5 separate regions of the Homo sapiens genome follow, and regions 1, 2, 3 and 4 are each linked to region 5. The links come from fine-mapping of genetic effects on plasma protein levels. Region 5 holds a variant in brackets. A gene starts in each other region. All regions are shown on their reverse strands.

Region 1 (4,588 bases), not on the chromosome of region 5:
AAGTTGTCAAGAGACCAAGTGAATGTTTTTTGTAAACTGGGAAGCCCCAGCAGAGATGCGCCAGCCGGGTTATTACCGCTGTGCTGGTTGCCATTATTTTCCAGGCCTGTGTTTCTCTGCCCAGCTAGCAACAAGGCAGGGGGAGGCTCCCAGCTAATCCAGACTTGAATCTCAGCTGTGGGTGGGAGCACCCTGTCTGGAGGCTCCACAGACATCTGTGTAGGTGGGGAGCAGGGAAGATGGGGAGGGGGTGGGGGGGGGAGATGGGGCCAGCAGAGATCTTCACCCAGATTTTTGATTCATAGAGCAAAAAGCCTTCTGTCTTATTTTTTCATTCCTGAAAAGAAAGCTCTTTTCCTCCAAACACAGTCTTCCAAGCAGCACCCCCACCCCCAGCCCCATAGCTTGTCAGTAATTAGCCCCTAATGAGGACCAGGTGTCCTACCGACTTGAGGAGAAGGAAAAACAAGGGACAGCCGGGCGCGGTGGCTCACACCTGTAATCCCAGCACTTTGGGAGGCTGAGGCGGGCAGATCACGAGGTCAGGAGTTCAAGACCAGCCTGGTCAACATGGTGAAACCCCATCTCTACTAAAAATACAAAAATTAGCCAGGCATGGTGGTGCACACCTGCAATCCCAGCTACTCAGGAGGCTGAGGCAGGAGAATCGCTTGAACCCGGGAGGCAGAGGTTGCAGTGAGCCGAGATCGCGCCATTACACTCCAGCCTGGGCAACAGAGCGAGACTCTGTCTCAAAAAAAAAAAAAAAAAAAACAAGGGACAAATTGTGGAATCAATGCCTTTACCGCCACTGAGGCCAGCCTAGCACAGCCTCCATCCCAGGCCTCCTAGGGCACCTGGATGGAAGCTCTTAGGTTTGCCAAAATCCCTACAGAACAGCAGCAATTGGTTTCTTAGTCAACTACAGCAGGCATTTATTGTACACCTACTGTATGCAGCAGCCTCTGGAGGAGAAAGTTCAAGCTTTACAACAAGGGAGGTGATATGTGTAAAGCTGTATGTAAACCATGAATCACAGGGAATGTGCAGGATGACAGAGACGGAGGAGAAAGGATAAGCATTTATTGAGCACCTACCGTATGCCAGGCCCTGGGCTAGGGACTTGAGGTACATTAAAGCATTTAATCCTCATTAACCCAATTTTACAAATGAGGAAACTGCCACAGAGAGGTGAGGGGACTTGTTCAAGGTTTGACAACCAAGTAAGGGAGCTGGGATTTGAACCCAGGTCTCTCTGGTTTCAAGACCAATACTCATAACCCCCACATGGACCAGGCACCATCACACCTGAGCACTGCACTTAGGGTCAAAGACCTGGCCCCACATCTCAGCAGCTATGTAGACTAGCTCCAGTCCCTTAATCTCTCTCAGCCTCAGTTTCTTCATCTGCAAAACAGGTCTCAGTTTCGTTGCAAAGTATGAAGTGCTGGGCTGTTACTGGTCAAAGGGAAGAGCTGGGAAGAGGGTGCAAGGTGGGGTTGGGCTGGAGATGGGCTGGAGCAGATAGATGGAGGGACCTGAATGGAGGAAGTAAACCAAGGCCCGGTAACATTGGGACTGGACAGAGAACACGCAGATCCTCTAGGCACCGGAAGCTAAGTAACATTGCCCTTTCTCCTCCTGTTTGGGACTAGGCTGATGTTGCTGCCTGGAAGGGAGCCAGCAGAAGGGCCCCAGCCTGAAGCTGTTAGGTAGAAGCCAAATCCAGGGCCAGATTTCCAGGAGGCAGCCTCGGGAAGTTGAAACACCCGGATTCAGGGGTCAGGAGGCCTGGGCTTCTGGCACCAAACGGCCAGGGACCTACTTTCCACCTGGAGTCTTGTAAGAGCCACTTTCAGCTTGAGCTGCACTTTCGTCCTCCATGAAATGGGGGAGGGGATGCTCCTCACCCACCTTGCAAGGTTATTTTGAGGCAAATGTCATGGCGGGACTGAGAATTCTTCTGCCCTGCGAGGAAATCCAGACATCTCTCCCTTACAGACAGGGAGACTGAGGTGAGGCCCTTCCAGGCAGAGAAGGTCACTGTTGCAGCCATGGGCAGTGCCCCACAGGACCTCGGGTGGTGCCTCTGGAGTCTGGAGAAGTTCCTAGGGGACCTCCGAGGCAAAGCAGCCCAAAAGCCGCCTGTGAGGGTGGCTGGTGTCTGTCCTTCCTCCTAAGGCTGGAGTGTGCCTGTGGAGGGGTCTCCTGAACTCCCGCAAAGGCAGAAAGGAGGGAAGTAGGGGCTGGGACAGTTCATGCCTCCTCCCTGAGGGGGTCTCCCGGGCTCGGCTCTTGGGGCCAGAGTTCAGGGTGTCTGGGCCTCTCTATGACTTTGTTCTAAGTCTTTAGGGTGGGGCTGGGGTCTGGCCCAGCTGCAAGGGCCCCCTCACCCCTGCCCCAGAGAGGAACAGCCCCGCACGGGCCCTTTAAGAAGGTTGAGGGTGGGGGCAGGTGGGGGAGTCCAAGCCTGAAACCCGAGCGGGCGCGCGGGTCTGCGCCTGCCCCGCCCCCGGAGTTAAGTGCGCGGACACCCGGAGCCGGCCCGCGCCCAGGAGCAGAGCCGCGCTCGCTCCACTCAGCTCCCAGCTCCCAGGACTCCGCTGGCTCCTCGCAAGTCCTGCCGCCCAGCCCGCCGGGATGCAGTCCGGGCCGCGGCCCCCACTTCCAGCCCCCGGCCTGGCCTTGGCTTTGACCCTGACTATGTTGGCCAGACTTGCATCCGCGGGTGAGTGAGGGGCCTGAGACCCCGACCCAGCCTGGCGGAACTAGAGGGGTTCCTCCGGGAGGGAAAAGGGACAGGAGGAGCCAGAAGTGGCCCCCAGATCGGGAGTCAAGCAGGCTGCGCTTCTCCCACCACTAGCTGGGGTCGCCAGGGGTTCAATCCTGGGGCGGACACGGGACCCCGCTATCTCAGGTTATGGGGTTTCTAGCTAGCCAAGGCTGTCCAGTTAGGGGCGGGAGCAGGCGCCCCAGGCATGGATTGCCTAGGGCGTGGCTTTGCCCGTTTGGATTGTCTGAGACACCAGTGGGGCCACCCCAATGCTGGCCGAGCTTTGTTTGCCAGGCAAGTTTGGGGTGAGTATGTTGGGGTCCAAAGGGACCCGGCGACAGTGAGAAGTGGGTCCTCCAGCTTCAGATGCCCTGGGCCAGGAATGGGGAGTGCTACAAGGTGGGAAACGAGGAATGAGCCACCCTGCCCTCCCCTGTGAGGAGCACCCCCACACCCCTCCAGCTGCCCCCCAGCTCTGCCCCTTCTTTCCTCCCCTTGCTTCCTTGCAGATCCGTCTATCTGCCACCTCCCCTCTTCATTCTCTCCTCTCCCTCCTCCTGTTGGTGACAGGCAGGACCCCCCACCCACTACCCACTCTCAGCCTCCTAGAGGGAGAGCTGGTGCCCCTCAGCGGGGCTTGTCCTACAGATAGCTCTGGACCACCCCCTGCCACACCTCCTCATCCCAGCACTGATGCCTGACCCAGCAGAGGCTGAATGGAAGTTCGCTTTCCGAGAAGTGCTGGGATATATCCCCTCTCTGTCCCGATGCCAGAAACCCCAACATGACAGCATTCTTCCTTCAGCGAAGGCAGCTCTAGTTATGCCATAAGAACTGTGGCCTTAGGGCCCATCCATCATCACTACCCACGTGTGATTCAGTGCTTCAGCTACACCTTCGAGATCATTCCCAAGAGCAACATGGAGCAAAGGCAGGGCCTGAGCCTCCTTCACAAGGGCCCAGGCCACACCCTTCTCTCCTTCAGATGGAGAAGCCAGCTCTAAAAGAGGGCATCACATGGTTCCCAGAAGGGAAGTGAGTCAAGGGAGGACCCCCGCGGGGTGAATCAGGGCTGGATCTCCAGGCTCCCTGTTCCTGCAGGGACCAGATCCCCTAAGATCTCAGGGCCTGAGGGATGGGCTGGGCCGCCAGGGAGATGGGAAGGGAGCATCCAAGGTGACCAGGGTGGTCAGCTCATTCAGGCCCCAGCCTCCAGCCAAGGAGGGATTCCAGTACCCCCACCTCCTTGGGCTTCAACTGAGAGCCATTCTCAAATACCTTCTTAGCCCTGACAGCATGCAGGCATGGTGCTAGGCTCGCAGGGGCACGGGAAATTGAGAGGCTGAACTGAGACTCATTCAGGAGGCAGAAAGGCAAATTAAATCTCAAACAGCAAAAATCTGGATGAAAAGTACAGAGGGGAGAAAAGCAGGGGCAAGCTGGGGCAGGACACAGGGTGGGCCTCAAACCAAGCCTTGGTGGATGGGAAGGGAGTCAGTCCTCCAGGCAGGGGCGCTGACTCAGAGGCACCAAGGTGGGCGTAAGCAGAGGGGTGTTGAGACAGGAAGGCCAGCAGCCTGGCTGGGAGGCGTATTTCGAGCACAGGCCAGGGAGAACCACTGGGCTGGGGCACAGAAGCCTTAAATGGCAAAATGAAGCCCACGGCCTTATGCCCTGTTGGCAAAGGAGATGCCACAAGGGTTTTAGGGCAAGAGAGCAGCATGGTGCTGTGGGGTTTTATAAAGTTACACCATCCCCTGCCTTTAGGAGGACTCGGAAATGAGGAGGGGCTGTGAGAGCTCCCGTCCAGCAACC
Region 2 (4,588 bases), not on the chromosome of region 5:
TATATTGCTGCATAACAAGTGACTTTAAAACTTAGGGGCCTAAGACAACATTTATTATCCCACAGTTTCTGTGGGTCAGGAGTCCAGGGAGGGTTTACATGGGTCCTCTGGCTTAGGAGGGTCTCTCCCAGGGCTGCAATCAAGATGTCAGCTGGGGCTGCCTTCATCTCAAAGCTCACTGGGGAAGGGTTCTTTTCTCCCTGAATATCGGCTGGAGGCTACTCTCAGGGGCCATATGTGGGCTTCTCCATAAGGCAGCTCACACTTAGCAGCTGCCTTCATGAGAGCAGGAAGGGCAAGAGAGAGAAGGCAAGCAAGAGGGAAATCGGTCTTTTGCAACCACATCCCATCACCTTTGCTGCATTATATTCATTATAATAGAATGTGGCCCCAGGCCAGCCCACACTCTAGGGAAGAGGACTACACAAGGCATGAATACCGGGAGGTGAAAACACAGGGCCATGTTAGAAGTTGTCCAGCACACCCCAGTATGTACCCTGTGCTCTCATCTCACAAAACTCACCCATGTTTCCCAAGGGGGAAAAAATGCTTTATTACCCATGTCTTACATTTGCTCATTAATTCACTCATTCAAAAAGTATTTTATTTCTACTGTGAGCTAGGTAGTGTTGTAAGGGCTAAGGATAGAGCAGTGAGCCAAAGAGACAAAGCCCCTCCCTCGTGGAGCAGACATTCTAGTAGGGAGATAAACAAACGATAAACAACCACACACTTAGTGCGACAGAGGGCAATGAGTTATAGCAGGCGAGGGGCATGAGGGGTGTCAGTGGAGGTGAGGATGTAGGATCTTATGTAGGGTGGCCTGGGAAGGCGTCTCTAAAAGCTTACCTCTGAGCAGAGACATGAAGGATGTGAGGAAGCCACCATGAGGCTATTTAAAAGAAGAGGGTCCTGGGCTGAGGGGGACATCATGTGCAAAGGTAGCTGATGTGTTCAAGGGGCACAAGAAGTTCTGTGTGATGGGAGCGGTGTGAGCAAAGGGGAAAACGCCTGGAGCTGAGGTCAGAAAGGAAACCAGGAGCCAGATCTTCTAAGGTCTTATAGGTCATGAAAAGGGCTTTGACTTTTATGCTAAGATGGGCGCCACTGGAGAATATCCCCTTAAAATGAGCTACTTTACATGCAGGAAAAAAACAAACAAAACTCCTTTCTTTATAATTTCAACATACCATTTTCAGTTCTCCCTTATAAAGAAGTATAATTTGCATTATAATGTAGCTACACATCTGAAATATGTATTCTTAATGGATCTCACATTTTCTAATTACTTACTTTAAAAGATAATATCTGAAAGCTTTGGGTGTTTGAGATGGCTTTTATCTCCAGATAAGGAAAGAGAAATCAAACAAAACCATTTCTGGGAAACCGAGGTCCATTTCTTGCCTAAAGTCAAACAACTTCAAAGAGTCTAGGCTAGAATCCAGGTCCAGGTAGACATCATTAATTTCACAAAGCCAGATGTCACCTGGCAGATCCCTGCCTGAGAGCCTAAAAGGACATGTTGTAAAGCAGGTGTCTAGGATCATAAAATGAGCTGATGCCTATGAATGGCCTAAATCCCAGTGAAGTAGTTACTAAAAAGCAGCCTGGTAACTGATTGGATACAATAAGGGCTAGAAGAGGTCTTGTTGATACTAGCACATTATCCAAACTTCCTGATGTCTGACCCAGGCCTTTGGTAAAGGACATTTTCTCAACATTGCCTTCACTGCATACCCAGCCCCAGGTTTCTCATATGACTGTGCAACCTAGAAGTCACCTTCAGACACCTTGGAGGGTCTATAGTCGGTAAACTTAGATAAGCAAATGAAAATTTACTTACTTGTATCAGGAAAGGAGAGGTCAGCACAGGGGCAGTTAGGAGAGGCTGGGTTGGGGACAGATTATTTAACAAAGGGAAGCACATATAAGAGAAGGTAAAGAAATATTCCACTTGCAAATCGCGGTACCTGTGGATGAGAGACATAGACGAGAGAGTGAGATGGCCTGGTTTGCCCTCTACCTCCTGAGCCTTCTCTGGGCTACAGCTGGGACTAGTACCCAGACCCAGAGTTCATGCTGTGAGTATGATGTTTTTCCAAGGAGGTCAGGGAAGCAGTTGCCCTGGGGAAGGGGCTGTGACCTCTGACACTGAGTGGTTGAAAATAGCAATCACTATAGGAATTCCAAAATGGGTAAGTCTGAGTGTGATTGTGTGCTGTTCATCCTTCCTGACTTAATAGCATAAGTTCTTTGAGAGACAAGTCTATATGTTTTTTATTAAGAGAGATGGGGCCAGGTGCAGTGGCTCACACCTGTAATCCCAGCACTTTGGGAGACTGAAGCAGGAGGATTGCTTGAGCCCAAGAGTTCAAGACCAGCCTGGGCAACATGGTGAGACTCCATCTCTACAAAAAAAATAAATAAATAAAAATAAAAAATTAGCTGGGCGCAGTGGCATGCACCTGTGGTCCCAGCTACTCAGAAAGCTGAGGTAGGAGAATCGCTTGAGCCCAGGAGGTCGAGGCTGCAGTGAGCTATAATCACACCACTGCACTCCAGCCTAGATGACACAGCAGCACCCTGTCTCAAAAAATCAATAAATAAAAATAATAGAGATGGAAGTACTACTGCAGGAATAATGGTTGATGGTACAAAGACAGACACTCAGTGGCTATTGTGACCAGACACCACTACATACTAGTGAGAGATTTTGGTACTCACTGAGGATAAATTATATCCCAAATCTTTAATACTCTTCATGAAAGAGTAAGGAAAAAAATGAATGCAAGGAAATCAGTGATTTCCAGGAAAGTGATAGAAACTATGAGAAATGTCATGAGCCATATTGCTTGAAGTTACTAAATTTAAAAATCACTTTCTTAAGGATATGGATTATTTGAGAAGATGTAGAAACTAATTGTCCTCAAAAGTAAAATCTCACCATTTTCTCCATTTCTCTTTAGTGACTTAGGACACTAATGCTAATCAAGTGTTCTCCTAAAAGGCATCAAAGATGGCCAGGCGAGGTGGCTCACGCCTGTAATCCCAGCACTTTGGGAGGCCAAGAAGGGTGGATTACCTGAGGTCAGAAATTCGAGACTACCCTGGCCAACATGGTGAAACCCCATCTCTACTAAAAATACAAAAATTAGCCTGGCGTGGTGGTGCACACCTGTAATCCCAGCTACTCAGGAAGCTGAGGCAGGAGAATCACTTGAACCTGGGAGGCAGAGTTTGCAGTGAGCCGAGATCGTGCCATTGCACTCTAGCCTGGGCAACAAGAGTAACACTGTCTCAAAAAAAAAAGAAAGAAAGAAAAAGCATCAAAGACACGGGGATAATGTTTTTGAGAAGGAATGAGGGTTAGAAGGTGAGTAAATGGCTTTCCTCTTCTCAGCCGTTCCCTCAGCACAGGAGCCCTTGGTCAATGGAATACAAGTACTCATGGAGAACTCGGTGACTTCATCAGCCTACCCAAACCCCAGCATCCTGATTGCCATGAATCTGGCCGGAGCCTACAACTTGAAGGCCCAGAAGCTCCTGACTTACCAGCTCATGTCCAGCGACAACAACGGTGAGACATCTGAGCCGCTCGCACTCTCCCTGAATCTCACACATCACATACCACCTCCAGATTCCAACTCAGCGTCCTTCCCACCCCAATGCTGCCTCTGACTGTAAATAAACTACCCAAACACCTTTCCTTACATACCTGGAAGGTACCTGGAAAGAAACATGTGTGAAGTCAGAGCATTCATGGAGGAGGTCAGTAAAGCAGGGAGAGCTCTGGACTAGACGTCGAAAGAGCAGCCTTCTGGTTCTGGCTCTGCCACGTCATAACTCTGGGATCTGAGACAAGTCACTGGATACTGCTCAGCCTCACCTTGCAGATGATTGTAGTAACAATAACCCTACTACTACTAATAGCAATGATAATAATAATAAAATCTCTGTTCTGCCTATCTCCCAGGAGCTGCCTGCAGGCTCAAGTTAGATAAAGTTTAAATTATTTTGCAACTGTAAATTTCTGTATATAAATCTATATGAGTATTTTGCTGCTTTTCTAATCAAATACCAGGGATTCTCAAATACCAAATACTAGAGTCATCAAGTTACACAGAGGCCACTAGATTAAATATTCCCTTACGTATTCTTCCATATTTTTTTCTTTGGAAAGACAGATCAAAGAACTGCTCATATTATTAAAAAGTCAAAATGCTCTAGATAAAAAGCAGAGAACTCATCACTGGCTCCTGGAGAGCTGTCCCCTGAGGATGTCTCTGTCTAACCGTTGTGTTCTCTTCTCTGCAGATCTAACCATTGGGCAGCTCGGCCTCACCATCATGGCCCTCACCTCCTCCTGCCGAGACCCTGGGGATAAAGTATCCATTCTACAAAGACAAATGGAGAACTGGGCACCTTCCAGTAAGACCTGACTGGAAGGGAGAAAAGAGTCAGGCATATGGTTTTACCTAAGAATTTTAAACCCAGAAAGGAAAAGGGTGGGGGTGGAGAGAAAGGCAAGTTAGGGAAGAGACAATGTATCCTTCACTCTGGTCCTTCTGATAATCCAGACCAGAAAGAT
Region 3 (4,551 bases), not on the chromosome of region 5:
CAGTTAGCTATCCATTTCACACATACTTCTTGGCTGTTCTAGGTTCTGCAGAAACAGTGGTGAGCAACGCAGACAAGATATCTGTTGCTTTAGAGCTGTCATTGTGGTTTGGGAAGTCAGACAAGAAATGATTTTATAGGTTGTTGAATAGGACTTTTCCTCTGCTCTTGGAATATCTGCTGAAGCCACAAAGATAGAACAATGAGGGCTAAATATTCTTGCATTCTGAAGAGAAGTACTAGACACCTTACTAAAGGCAGAACAGGTTCAACAGCAATCAAACTACATCCCTCAATTCCAGTCTACAAATGAAAGGGATTGAAGAAAGTCACTGAAGCATAACACTGCTGCATTTGTGGGCAGGGCTGAGATTTCCCCTGAGGGAACTCCCCAACTCAAACCAAATGAAGGGAGCTCCCAGAGAGAACCAGTCATCTGCAAGAAGAGGAGGCTCTGTCCCTATAACTGTCCCCCCACTGATGCTGACTATGTTGCTGGATGTTACAGGCACCTCGGTGCATTAAACTACAGCAAGACAGTTCATGGGAGAACCCAACATATGTCTTTAGGAATTGAGGACGTACATAAATGAAGAGACTTGTGTGCACTTCCTGTCTGGAGAATTCTGATCGTGGAGCCTCGCTGGAGTGGCCTGTGTGGCAAGGTGAGAAGTGGGCAGGGTGAGGAGCGGCCAACCCACCATTGTTTTGCCTGGCATAGGTGGGACAGTCCTATGAGAGACAGAGGATGCAGGGGTCTCCGAGAGGTTGGCCAGAGAGTAATTTGCTATGGCAACTCAGGGTGGAGGTCCTGTAGAGAACCTCCCAAAAACCCACATATGTGCCCATGAAAAAGCCAGCGCTTGGCACCTGCCAACCAAGGGTACCTGTCACATAAGACTTTGCTACTTTTCCTCTAACACCTCTCTCCCAGCCTTGACAAAGAGGAGCCACAGCAGAAAAGGGAGGTCAGGAAAACAGACCACACCCCACTCTCACCACTGCAGGATCTCTAGCAAAGGGACAGGGGAGAGGAGGACTATTAAATGGGATGTGATATTGATTAACTTGGATGAGATTTTGATCTGGACAGGAGCAGACTTTTTGTGTCTGAAAATGGGTCTTAATTATATTAATAGAATAGTTCTCGTGTCTGGTAGGGATGACCTCTCAAGCCAAGGACTCTGCCTGAGATGTCATTAAGGGTGGGAAAGGGAAATTTACCATAATATGGTTGAAGGTAGTAGTGGAGCAGTTTCTGGATAGTCCCTCTTTAGGTTCAGCCCATTAAAAAATTCAGTTACACGAGCAAACAAATCAATAACAAGATGATGTCAACTGTTTTATGAAGATGAAACAGGGTGGTGTGTTAGAGTCATGACTGGGGTGAGGGAGGGCTGCTCTAGATTGGAGGTCAGGGATGGCTACTCCAGGAGCTGATATTTAATCTGAGAGGAGCAGTGATGAGGAACTACCCTCTAACATCCTGGAGAGGAACCTTCCAGTAGAGGGAAGGGGGCATTCACTTGGCTTGTTCAAGGAGCAGAGAGAGGGCCAAGGCAGCACAGTGTGGTGGGTAAGGGAGAGCAAGAGGCCAGATGAAATCAGAGCGGGGGCAGCCAGCTAGGGTTTGTAGGCCAAGGCCAGGGGTCGAGGCTTTATTTCAACAGTAGATATTACCTGGGCTTGTCTTTTGTGTGGTGTGGGAGGTTGTGAACTGGTGCCCACATGCCAGCTCCTTCACTCTGCCTCTCTGGGAAATAGGCTGTACAAATGTGCCAGGGGCAGCCCTGTTGATCCAAGCCTTTAGGCTGTAGGGAGGGAGCATGGGTGAGAATGGTGTGCTGATTACTGGGGACACGCAGACAGCGGCAGTCAGCATTCCCACACCCCTGCCCGCCTCCCTGCTAACACAAGATGTGAATGCACACACTGGGTCAATCGGGGTCACCGAATCCCCCTCTGGGAAATTCCCGAGAGAGTGAAGGGCTGGGTGGGATCCCGGGAATGGATTCAGCCAGAGGCGGGAGGCCTAGATTCCACTCCCCTCTTTCACATGCGCTATCTCCTTGAGTGACTTACTCAAGAGGCTCCGTGTCTTTGCCTCGGTGAAAAAGAGGACCCCTTGGCCGGGCGTGGTGGCTCACGCCTTTAATCCCAGCACTTTGGGAGGCCGAGGCGGGCGGATCACCTGAGGTTGGGAGTTCGAGACCAGCCTGACCAACATGGAGAAACCCCGTCTGTACTAAAAAATAAAATAATATACAAAATTAGTCAGACTTGGTGGCGCATGCCTGTAATCCCAGCTACTAGGGAGGCTGAGGCAGGGGAATCGCTTGAACCCGGGAGGCGGAGGTTGCGGGGAGCTGAGATCGCACCATTGCACTCCAGCCTGGGCAACAAGAGCGAAACTCCGTCTCAAAAAAAAGAAAGAAAGAAAGAAAGAAAAGAAAAAGAAAAAGAAAAAGAGGACCCCTCTTCTACCGGCAGCCATCACCGCGCCAGGCTCAGGCGTGACCCTCACGCCAGTGGAAGGGGATTGAGATCCAGAGCGAAGGCGGCGGCGCCAGGGCATTGCAGCCACGGAGCGCCAGGGCCGCCAGCTCCGCCAGGGGGCGCGCCCGGGACCTCCCTGCGCTCCGCGCGCCGCGCCCCGCCCCGCGCCACCCCCGCTCCGGCCGGCCCTGCGGAGGGCGCCCCCAGCGGCCAGGGCGCAAGCGGAGGGGGCGGCGGCCCTGTTCCCCTACGCGGGCCTCGGCGCCCCTCCCGGCTTCCTTCAGACCTGCAAGGCTGCAGCCTGGGTCCCCCGATCCAAAGACGGTCCCTGAGGCGAGGGGCGGGAGAACGATTCGGGGCAGGTCTGCAGTTCGAACTTGCCCAGAGCAGGAGAAAGGCGGCCCAGTGTCCCGGTCGTGGCAGGCGCCATCTGCCCGACCAGCGCCTGGGTCAGCCCCGCGCCGCCCCCTGCTCCGCACGGGTTAATCCCCCTCGCCGCCCGCTCGCCGCCCGCTGGCTTCCCGGTGCCAAAGTGGGTGTTGCTGGAATTCCTCGCTCCCTCTCCGGTAATGAGGGGGCTGAGCTGTCCCTCCGAGGAGGGGGCCTGGTGTGGATAAAAGAGACGAAAAAGCCGGGGGAGGTTTCCAAAAATAAAACCGTCCGGGTCCCCTTCAGACGGCTGCAGGCACAGGGAGGAGGCGCGAAGGTGCAGCAGCCGTGCGAGCCCAGCTGGAGTAGGAGCGCGGACTCGAGGCTCGGGGCGCGCAGCCCTCGTTCCGCCGAGAGCCGGGCCCCCAGTCGGCCGCTTCAGGGCCCCCTAGACTCAGAGAAGCTGGCCGCCGGGCGGGGCCGGGAGAACAGCCCGCGGGCGTCCAGCGTGCCGACCACAAAGCTCTTCGCGGTGCCCGCGCGCACCACTCTCCAGCCGCCCCGCGCCATGAGGCCGCGGACCAAAGCCCGCAGCCCGGGGCGCGCCCTGCGGAACCCCTGGAGAGGCTTCCTGCCGCTCACCCTGGCTCTCTTCGTGGGCGCGGGTCATGCCCAAAGGGACCCCGTAGGGAGATACGAGCCGGCTGGTGGAGACGCGAATCGACTGCGGCGCCCTGGGGGCAGCTACCCGGCAGCGGCTGCAGCCAAGGTGTACAGTCTGTTCCGGGAGCAGGACGCGCCTGTCGCGGGCTTGCAGCCCGTGGAGCGGGCCCAGCCGGGCTGGGGGAGCCCCAGGAGGCCCACCGAGGCGGAGGCCAGGAGGCCGTCCCGCGCGCAGCAGTCGCGGCGTGTCCAGCCACCTGCGCAGACCCGGAGAAGCACTCCCCTGGGCCAGCAGCAACCAGCACCCCGGACCCGGGCCGCGCCGGCTCTCCCACGCCTGGGGACCCCACAGCGGTCTGGGGCTGCGCCCCCAACCCCGCCGCGAGGGCGGCTCACGGGGTGAGCATGGGAGAGGGAAGTTTGGAGGGTACAGAGGGGAGCCAGGGCTCATTTGTGGAGGGGCGTGCAGGCGAGAGGAGAGGGCGCCGCTCTCATACCCTCGTCCCTCTGTCTTTAGTACTTCGGGAAACAGCCCCGAGGTTCCAAAATCGGGATTGGAAGATTTGATCCGCTTTCGAAGAGTTGAAGGCAGATAGATCATCATCCTCATCCTTTCTTACCAACTCTCCCGGAGCCCCGACGTTAAATCCTTTCGCAAGGCGCCTCTCCACTCGCCCGCGTTCCTCCTGCCTGCAACTAACGAGCTCTTGTAGACTCTTGCAGCGCTGCCGGGATCTGAGAGGCAGCGGGGAGAGGGCAGGAGGGTGGGCGCTCCAGGCTCTTGACGCCCAGGGGAGGTTGAGCTGGCTCAGAGCGCGGGTTGGCGGAGGTGTCGGGGGCCCCATGGAGAGAAGGTAGATGCGTCTCCAGGAGGGGAGCCGGCAGCGAAGCTGGTGCGTCGGGACAAGTGTCGTGGGGCGTGGGTCGGCCTGCGCACGCTGAGGGCTGGATGCGGGCGTGGGCGTGAGCTCTGGGTACTTTGGGCGGGAAGCGTGTCCTGATGAGGCTGCGACACAGTGGGCGC
Region 4 (4,497 bases), not on the chromosome of region 5:
AGAGCATTTTTATATTGGAGGAAGAGCATTCCAGGCAGCAGGAACAGCCAAGACCAAGGCTGTGAGGCAGAGTGTCTGGAGCATTTAAGGAACAGCAATGAGGCCAGAGTTTGGAGGCAGATGACATAGACCAGGAGGCCATGGCAAGGACTGTGGCCCTTCCTCTAAGCGAGATGGGGGGCTCAGAGGGTTCTGAATGGAGAAGTGATCAGATCTGACTTGGATTTTGAAAGGATCCCTCTGGCAGGATGGAGAGGGCAAGAGAGACACCACGGGAGAGGCTGTTGGGGAAATCTAGATTGGCGTTGCTAGCCACCTGGGCCGGGGGTGGGTGGCAAAGAAGGTGTCCAGGAGTGGTCAGATTCTGGATCTCTTTTGAAAGTGAAGCCAACAGGATTTGCTGAGAGACTGGATGTGGGCTGTGGGAGAAAGAGAGGAGTCAAGCATGACCTCAAGGTTTGGGGCCTGAGCCAACAGAAGGATGAACTCCTCCATCTTGACTTTTGTCTCCTGAGAAGGGGAGTCATTCTGTGTGCTTCACATGTATAGACCTTGTAAGAAGGAACTTCCAGGCATATGGCAAGAACTTCCTAAGCCCTGGTTCTCGAGGGGCTGGCTGGGTCTGCAGGGCCAGCCTAGGCACTGTAAGGTGGTTTGCAAAAACGCACCCTGGTCTCCACCCACCACATATGCTCAGAAGACAGGAACATTTGCTTCAGGCTCCACAGCTGACAAAGCACATTTGCAAACACTGAGCGCTGTGACGCAATATCTCAGCCCTGCTGAGCTAAAAATCCTGGACTCATTGCCCTCATGTTGCAACTGAGAAAAAAGGAGACCCAGAGAGGGCCAGTGACTCCCCTGCAGTCACAAAGTCGATCCATCTGTGGCAGAGGGGGAAGCTGCATCAGGGCAGTTTACTGAAGGGCGGAACCTCTCCCCCACCTCCCCACACTGTTTCTAACTTCTGCTAAGAGTGCAGCGGGTGTGCATGGGTTAATCCGCCAGCCAGCTCCCCAGAGGCCATCCTGGATGATGGGCTCAGTGCACATGCCTCCAGAGGCCTCCAGGAAGGGCGGGAAGAGGACCCTGGCCAGGCCGAAACAGCAGGCCCCGGGGGCAGGGAGGGCTCCACACACGTGATGCCTGTGTCACATATACACATATATGTCACTGTGTGCCCCATGCCCATACATGGCCTTGCATGGGTCCCCTCACAGCCTTCCACATCCTGCGTGCAGCCCAGCCCCCACCCAGCCCCCTAAACCACGCACCCTGCCTTCCTGACGCAGGAGCCCAGAGAGGCATTTCCTGTTTAGGGGCTGCCTCCTCCCCCTCTAAGCCCAGGTTCCCAGGGCCCCAGGCTGAGCTGGGGTGAGGGGAGGGCAGCCCCTGGCCCCCTCACTCCCCCAACACCCCCACACGCTGGCCCAGCTGGAACCAGAAAGCTTGAGTATAGGGGGAGAGGCTGACGCAGGGGCTCAGTAAATAAATGAGAGGCTGAGGATGCCTGTGCCTGGGTGACCAAGCTGTTTCCATTCAGGCCGAATCGGAGGTCTTCATATGTCAGGCCATGTAGAATGCCACACCATTTTTGTATGTGCACCTAGGGTCTCAGCATGTCAGAATGTGTGTACGTGTGGCAAGGGAGTCATCTGCAAGCCAGCATAGGTCCACGGTGAGGTGAAGGGACAAACAGCTTGGCAGAGAGTGCACTCTTGCATGGGGTTGGGGGTGGGGGAGGCGCATGCGCGCGTCTGTGGGGCAAGAAAGGAGTGGGCATGAGGGTGTTCCCGTGCATGGCGAGCAGCTGGGCTGAGACTGCTCCCGGGTGTGATGGGGCTGCTGTGTCCAGATTTGGGTCTCTGAGTCTCTGGGAAGCGACCTCACCCCACAGCCCCGAGCCCCAACTTGAGGGTCACAGAGCTCGGCAGGCAGGCTTTTCCCACCCCCTGACTCTCAGCCCCATGGGGCCTGGGGCAGCCGTCAACTGCGCCTTCTCCCCTCCTCCGCCCCCAACCTTAGAGCCCCCCACCCCACTGCTTCCTGCTCTAGCGGCCCCCGGGGAAGAGGGAGCAGGGAGCTGGCAGCCGCCCCAGCCCACTCCTTACAAGGCCTGAGCCCGGCCCCAGGCCCGCCCCCGGCCCGCCCGCAGGAGGCCCCAGGCCCTCCCCCTGTCAAGAGCTGCCGCCAGCCCGGGGCCGGACCAGTCCGGGGGCATCGCGATGCTGCTGCGCCTGTTGCTGGCCTGGGCGGCCGCAGGGCCCACACTGGGCCAGGACCCCTGGGCTGCTGAGCCCCGTGCCGCCTGCGGCCCCAGCAGCTGCTACGCTCTCTTCCCACGGCGCCGCACCTTCCTGGAGGCCTGGCGGGCCTGCCGCGAGCTGGGGGGCGACCTGGCCACTCCTCGGACCCCCGAGGAGGCCCAGCGTGTGGACAGCCTGGTGGGTGCGGGCCCAGCCAGCCGGCTGCTGTGGATCGGGCTGCAGCGGCAGGCCCGGCAATGCCAGCTGCAGCGCCCACTGCGCGGCTTCACGTGGACCACAGGGGACCAGGACACGGCTTTCACCAACTGGGCCCAGCCAGCCTCTGGAGGCCCCTGCCCGGCCCAGCGCTGTGTGGCCCTGGAGGCAAGTGGCGAGCACCGCTGGCTGGAGGGCTCGTGCACGCTGGCTGTCGACGGCTACCTGTGCCAGTTTGGCTTCGAGGGCGCCTGCCCGGCGCTGCAAGATGAGGCGGGCCAGGCCGGCCCAGCCGTGTATACCACGCCCTTCCACCTGGTCTCCACAGAGTTTGAGTGGCTGCCCTTCGGCTCTGTGGCCGCTGTGCAGTGCCAGGCTGGCAGGGGAGCCTCTCTGCTCTGCGTGAAGCAGCCTGAGGGAGGTGTGGGCTGGTCACGGGCTGGGCCCCTGTGCCTGGGGACTGGCTGCAGCCCTGACAACGGGGGCTGCGAACACGAATGTGTGGAGGAGGTGGATGGTCACGTGTCCTGCCGCTGCACTGAGGGCTTCCGGCTGGCAGCAGACGGGCGCAGTTGCGAGGACCCCTGTGCCCAGGCTCCGTGCGAGCAGCAGTGTGAGCCCGGTGGGCCACAAGGCTACAGCTGCCACTGTCGCCTGGGTTTCCGGCCAGCGGAGGATGATCCGCACCGCTGTGTGGACACAGATGAGTGCCAGATTGCCGGTGTGTGCCAGCAGATGTGTGTCAACTACGTTGGTGGCTTCGAGTGTTATTGTAGCGAGGGACATGAGCTGGAGGCTGATGGCATCAGCTGCAGCCCTGCAGGGGCCATGGGTGCCCAGGCTTCCCAGGACCTCGGAGATGAGTTGCTGGATGACGGGGAGGATGAGGAAGATGAAGACGAGGCCTGGAAGGCCTTCAACGGTGGCTGGACGGAGATGCCTGGGATCCTGTGGATGGAGCCTACGCAGCCGCCTGACTTTGCCCTGGCCTATAGACCGAGCTTCCCAGAGGACAGAGAGCCACAGATACCCTACCCGGAGCCCACCTGGCCACCCCCGCTCAGTGCCCCCAGGGTCCCCTACCACTCCTCAGTGCTCTCCGTCACCCGGCCTGTGGTGGTCTCTGCCACGCATCCCACACTGCCTTCTGCCCACCAGCCTCCTGTGATCCCTGCCACACACCCAGCTTTGTCCCGTGACCACCAGATCCCCGTGATCGCAGCCAACTATCCAGATCTGCCTTCTGCCTACCAACCCGGTATTCTCTCTGTCTCTCATTCAGCACAGCCTCCTGCCCACCAGCCCCCTATGATCTCAACCAAATATCCGGAGCTCTTCCCTGCCCACCAGTCCCCCATGTTTCCAGACACCCGGGTCGCTGGCACCCAGACCACCACTCATTTGCCTGGAATCCCACCTAACCATGCCCCTCTGGTCACCACCCTCGGTGCCCAGCTACCCCCTCAAGCCCCAGATGCCCTTGTCCTCAGAACCCAGGCCACCCAGCTTCCCATTATCCCAACTGCCCAGCCCTCTCTGACCACCACCTCCAGGTCCCCTGTGTCTCCTGCCCATCAAATCTCTGTGCCTGCTGCCACCCAGCCCGCAGCCCTCCCCACCCTCCTGCCCTCTCAGAGCCCCACTAACCAGACCTCACCCATCAGCCCTACACATCCCCATTCCAAAGCCCCCCAAATCCCAAGGGAAGATGGCCCCAGTCCCAAGTTGGCCCTGTGGCTGCCCTCACCAGCTCCCACAGCAGCCCCAACAGCCCTGGGGGAGGCTGGTCTTGCCGAGCACAGCCAGAGGGATGACCGGTGGCTGCTGGTGGCACTCCTGGTGCCAACGTGTGTCTTTTTGGTGGTCCTGCTTGCACTGGGCATCGTGTACTGCACCCGCTGTGGCCCCCATGCACCCAACAAGCGCATCACTGACTGCTATCGCTGGGTCATCCATGCTGGGAGCAAGAGCCCAACAGAACCCATGCCCCCCAGGGGCAGCCTCACAGGGGTGCAGACCTGCAGAACCAGCGTGT
Region 5 (4,588 bases):
GGGTGGGTGAGAGTTGGAGGTCATCACTGCTGACCAAGGTCAGGAGGAAAGAAGGGTGAGAAGTGGATGGGAGCTGGATACCATGCAGGTGGGGCTGAGATGCAGCCCAGTCCAGGGCTCCTGACAGGGATAACCTGTTCAGCCCCAGGTTCCTGTCGGCAGCAGGGAAAGGACACTGCGCTGGGGTTTGGGAGTGCAGACCCTCCCCCAACCTCAGGTGCATACCTATATTTCAAAGGCCCATCTTCAGTCAGAGCTCGCCCTGTAGCCTCTCTGTCTGTGCCCTCCCCTCCCTTGCTCTCTCCCACTAGTCCCTTCCCTCTTGGGAATGTCAAAGTGCAAGATGCAGAAACCTGGGCGAACAACACAGCCTAAAGACCGGCTCTGGCTGGCGGCCCAGGAGGTTCTCCCACCCCACTCCACTCCGGGGAGTCAAAGGCCAGGTCAGGAGAAGGTCAGGGCTGAGGGGCTCCCTCAGTCGACTGGTGAGGCCAGCTCAGTGCAGGAGGCTGGGGAGAGGCTGGAGAGTGGAGGACGGACGGATGCTGGCTCATGGATGGACGGGGGCAGGCTGTTCAGCAGGCAGGTACAGTGTTCACAGTGCAATGGCTTCCTTCATGAGGGGAGCCTCTGCTTGGCCTCCTGGAGAAGCTCTGGCAGGTGCTGGAAGGAGGAGGGGCAGAGGCCAGTGCTTGATCCCCCTCTTGGCATCACTGGCAGGTCAGGCAGGTCCTGAGGGCAGGGCTGGCCTCCCCTCTGCGCCTGGCAACCAGCACAGGGCACTTAGGTGAGCCGAGGGTGTAGACCCTTCAGGCTGTCAGTGCAGACCAGCAGGTCCAGAGGCCTCCTCTTCCCGTCTCTCAGGCTGCACACCTTTACGGGAAATCAGGCCGACGCTGTCCCGCCCCACGAACTTCAGGCTCCTCTCTCTGGAGACAGGTCCATGCCTGTCCAGGCTGGGATACCTTGGCACCAGGCAGGCCCTCTGGGTGCAGGGTTCTTTCACTCCTCAGCGTCCACCCTGCTTTCCCACAAACCACAGGCCGGTGGGTCCCTGGCCTGGGTTCCGGCATGGAAGGGAGTGAGAGGAGGGTGCAGCCCCTGAGGGAAGAGGGTCCTGAGCCGGGCTCACCAGCCTTCCTCAAGCACATGGGAGCCTCCAGGGCTCACAATAAATAGTGGCAGCATGGGGAGCATCCTCTGGCCTCTCTCATTCAGTCAAGGGTCTGCGGGTTGAGACAGAGGGGCCCCAGCCTGGCTGCTCTGGTCCAGTCCTGGCAGGCAGGAGCTCTGGTGGAGGGCAGACCACATTCCAGGAGGATGGCCAGGGAGGGGTGGTGGTGGACGCCCCATAATGTCTCCTCCCACGGAGAGACTGTTCTGTGCGTCCAGCTGTGGGAGAGAAGGAAAGGCTAGTCAGCAGAGTGGGAATGCGGGGAGGGTCGTTGAGGACATGGATTGGGAGGTGTGGCATTCCTGTGGGCTGCTGGCGGTGCTGCAGGCAGGACTTCCTTTCCTCCCTTCCCTGGCCTTTCCAGACACCACAGAGAGACCAGGCAGCTTTCTCTGGCACCAGCCCAGGCCTCTGGCCCAACTGGCCTCACCTCCTACCTCCTCCTGGGGAATCAGGGCCTCAGTGGAAGATAACGGGGCCCGGGAGAGGTCTGGGCAGGGCTGGGAAGAGGGGTTACTGCTCAAGCAGAGGGCTCTGACAAGGAGCGAAGCGGGCACTTGAATGTCTTTGGACCCCTCCTCAGGCGAGGTCATCTCATTGGCCTTGGTCCAGTGAACAAAGGGTGATTCCTGCTAACACTAGCAAAGAAGAATCTTTCATTTCATCAGAGGGGCATCACATATGATGTTCAAGACAGTAGGGCAGAGCTAGCTGAAGAGGAACAACTTGGGCCAGAGAGGAAAAGTCTAGAGGCAGTGCCAGGACAAGGAAATTCCCACACTGTCATTTGGCACGCGACCCCTAAGCAACCCAGCCCCTCCTGGATGGGCCGAGGGCCTTGCCTCCCGCATCATCCATGGGAGTCAGGGCCTTGTCCTCTCGCCTTCCACCCCCATCCTTGTCCTCTTGCCCAGCATCCTCAGGACG[C/T]TTTGTTCCCAGAGCAGAAATCCCCTGGACCCCATCCAACAGTTTGACTTTGGACCTTGTGTGGAGCCTCCCTCCCTAACATCCATAGGCCCTACTGGGTAAGGAGGGAAGATGGAACCACAGCCTCTGGCTCCCTGCCCATTCCCATGCTCTAGAGGGAAAGAAGGGGAACCATAAACTGGACATGAGCCATGCTGGGTACAGCCAGGCCACAGGCCCAGCTAGGGCCCAGGAGGGGAGAAGGACCCAGTGAGCGAGTTCCAGCCTGCTGCCCCATCTTCTAGCTGCTTAGGGCTGAGGTGCTGGTGTCTGCATTTTCTGTGGCTCTGAGTCCCTATCTCAGTCTCTGCCTCTATGTTTCTCTCTCTCACTTCTCAAATCACAGCAGCAGTCACTCTAGGGGCTGGCACTCAATCTCTCCAAGGCCACTGGTGCCTGGCCTGGAGACCACCTTAGGGCTGGACCTGCCGGGCCAAGTGGGATCTGGATGTAGCCCCTGCCCTGGATTCCCTCTCCAAGTGAAATCTTGAGGGGGAAGAGGAAAGCTTGGGACGGGCCTGAGAATAAGCAAGTGGGGAAAGGAGGGTGGGCGTGTAGAGGGGTGGGACAGAGGGCCAAGACCACGGCGAGGGGTTTGGGGACAGACGACCCGTGGGAAGGGTGTTGTGGCACTGAGCCACCAGCAACCAGTTCTGAGGAGGCCTGGGTCATTTCACAGTCTTGCCAGTGCCCCAGCTGACCCACTCACCCATCTTAGCCCACCCCACTGACAAGGTAGACCCCAGGATTCCAGATATGTTGTTACTGCTGGTTCTTGTCTAAATAGGTTCCCCTGGTTTTGAGCATTTGCCAAATTCCCTATCTCTCTAGAAGGGGCCCAGACCTGTCACTCCACACATGGGAGAGCCCTGCGGCACTGGCTTGCACTTGGTAAAGGATGTGACTGGAAACTTGACTGGGTCACCCCAGCTAGTCAGCCAACCAGCCAATTAGTCAGGCAATCAGCTAGTCAGTTGCTCAATGGGCTCCCCAAGCAACAGCTGGTCAGTTAGGCAGTTACCAAGATAGTTGGTTGGTTAGTCATTCACCCAGCCAGCTGGTCAGCCAGTCAGTCAGAGTCAGTCAGTTAGCTGGTTAACTGGTCAGCTAGAGGCTGGTCAGTTAGAGACAGCTGGCCAGGGTCAGTCCGTGAGTCAGCCCTGAAGCCAGTCAGTCAACATTTATTGCATGTTTGGCAAATGTGGAGAGGCCCTCTCTTAGTAGAACCCAGGATGGAAAAAGAAACACAAAAAAAAGTGGAAGACAGTCCCTGCCCTCAAGGGGCTTACAATCTTAGGGATGTGGAATGTACAATACATATAAAATAAGATTTTAAAAAATATGAAAACAACATCCAAATAAGTGCAAATTGATATACTATTAGCCAAATACAAAAGAGCAGGAGGAGCATGACTGAAAAGAGCAGTCAGAAGGTTGTGGAGAAGCCAGGAAGGCTTCCTGATGGGCTGGCTGTGGGCTTGGGTGGGAGGGGGAAGAGGTGGGCCAGCTGGGGTTGGCGGGGGGCAGGGGTGAGGAACAATAGGGTCACAGCTACATCAACAACATGGGCAAAGACAACAGCAGGCACTCATCAATGTGCAGGAGGCACAACTGGGAGGGCTACGGAGATGACAGAATTAGGATTTCACACAACTTCAGTAGGTTCAGGTGATGGGCAGAAACCAACAAGGTGGCTTTAACAAAGGTGAACATAAACTGCACTTTGGTTAAAAAAGTTAAGTTGTCCAAGTACAGGGTAGAGATGGTCTGGCTTGACAGAAGTTTATGGGAAATGGAACTAGGGGTTTTAATAGACCACAGGCTCAACATATGACAACAGTATGATGCAGTTGTTAAGAAAAAAACTAATGCAATCTTAATCTGCACAAATAGAAGAATACTGTCCATATCAAGGAAGGTAACAGTCCCACTGTACTCTCTCTGAGCTGGTCAGACAACATCTGGAGTACTGTGTCCGGGGCTGGGCGTCACATTTTCAGAGGGACATTGACAAACGAGTGTGTCCAGGATGGTGAGGGGTCTGAAAACCATATCATATAAGGAACGTTTGAGGGACTTGGCCATACTTAGCTTAGAGAATTCTCAAAGGGGACATGGATACCTGACTTGAAATATCTGAGGGTTTTCATGAGAACAGGAGGGAGGAGCAGTATGGAGGGGGCAGGGAAGCCAGTTTTGCCTCGCATGAGGAAGACGTTTCTCCCAGTCTGACTGGAAGATGGCATGGGCTGTGGCTAGGCAGGGAGCTGGGCTGGATCTGGGAGTGTGTGACAGCCAGCTGGCTGGCTCCCTGTTGGGGACATGGAGAGGGGCAGTCCCTTTGGGGTGGGAACCAGGGCCAAATGACCCCTGAGAGCCCTTCCAAGACTCAGGTTCTATGTCAACATGATCCTAAAAGCAAGGAAGCAGAACTGACCTCAGCTGGGG

Direction of the effects. Alleles are on the strand shown, and positions count from the first base shown. The strength of an association depends on the size of the effect and on how common the allele is.
In carriers of allele C in region 5, the plasma level of the protein whose gene starts at base 2,548 in region 1 tends to be higher than with T alone (weak association).
As copies of T replace C in region 5, the plasma level of the protein whose gene starts at base 1,957 in region 2 goes down (weak association).
For the plasma level of the protein whose gene starts at base 3,140 in region 3, T is the low allele of the variant in region 5 and C is the other (weak association).
With allele C in place of T in region 5, the plasma level of the protein whose gene starts at base 2,209 in region 4 is higher (weak association).

The links. PIP is the chance, under the fine-mapping model, that this variant and not a neighbour inherited with it causes the effect. The UK Biobank Pharma Proteomics Project read protein levels with antibody pairs (Olink). The fine-mapping took linkage between variants from a reference panel, not from the people measured, so its PIPs are less certain.
Region 1: it holds the start of CSPG4, and the variant in region 5 is fine-mapped to the plasma level of the CSPG4 protein (UK Biobank, PIP above 0.99).
Region 2: it holds the start of CBLIF, and the variant in region 5 is fine-mapped to the plasma level of the CBLIF protein (UK Biobank, PIP above 0.99).
Region 3: LTBP2 starts here. The variant in region 5 is fine-mapped to the plasma level of the LTBP2 protein (UK Biobank, PIP above 0.99).
Region 4: it holds the start of CD248, and the variant in region 5 is fine-mapped to the plasma level of the CD248 protein (UK Biobank, PIP above 0.99).

The regions. Positions count from the first base shown.
Region 1 is chr15:75,710,808-75,715,395 of GRCh38, reverse strand. CSPG4 (chondroitin sulfate proteoglycan 4) reads left to right here and starts at 2,548. Exons shown (of 10, transcript NM_001897.5): 1 at 2,548-2,728. The coding sequence starts at 2,641.
Region 2 is chr11:59,842,868-59,847,455 of GRCh38, reverse strand. CBLIF (cobalamin binding intrinsic factor) reads left to right here and starts at 1,957. Exons shown (of 9, transcript NM_005142.3): 1 at 1,957-2,081; 2 at 3,401-3,577; 3 at 4,315-4,428. The coding sequence starts at 2,003.
Region 3 is chr14:74,610,826-74,615,376 of GRCh38, reverse strand. LTBP2 (latent transforming growth factor beta binding protein 2) reads left to right here and starts at 3,140. Exons shown (of 36, transcript NM_000428.3): 1 at 3,140-3,926. The coding sequence starts at 3,433. It overlaps LOC101928352 (a long non-coding RNA gene), which reads right to left and starts at 2,192. Exons shown (of 2, transcript XR_944029.4): 1 at 2,082-2,192; 2 at 1,329-1,810. RefSeq lists a silencer at 2,510-2,829 and an enhancer at 2,457-3,084.
Region 4 is chr11:66,314,756-66,319,252 of GRCh38, reverse strand. CD248 (CD248 molecule) reads left to right here and starts at 2,209. Exons shown (of 1, transcript NM_020404.3): 1 at 2,209-4,497. The coding sequence starts at 2,226. RefSeq lists enhancers at 1-207, 2,764-3,460 and a silencer at 2,011-2,280.
Region 5 is chr1:109,925,656-109,930,243 of GRCh38, reverse strand. CSF1 (colony stimulating factor 1) reads right to left here. Exons shown (of 9, transcript NM_000757.6): 9 at 1-1,392. Among named protein-coding and RNA genes, the nearest start is that of CSF1, 17 kb to the right of the region's middle. The variant C/T (reference allele first, on the strand shown) is at 2,102.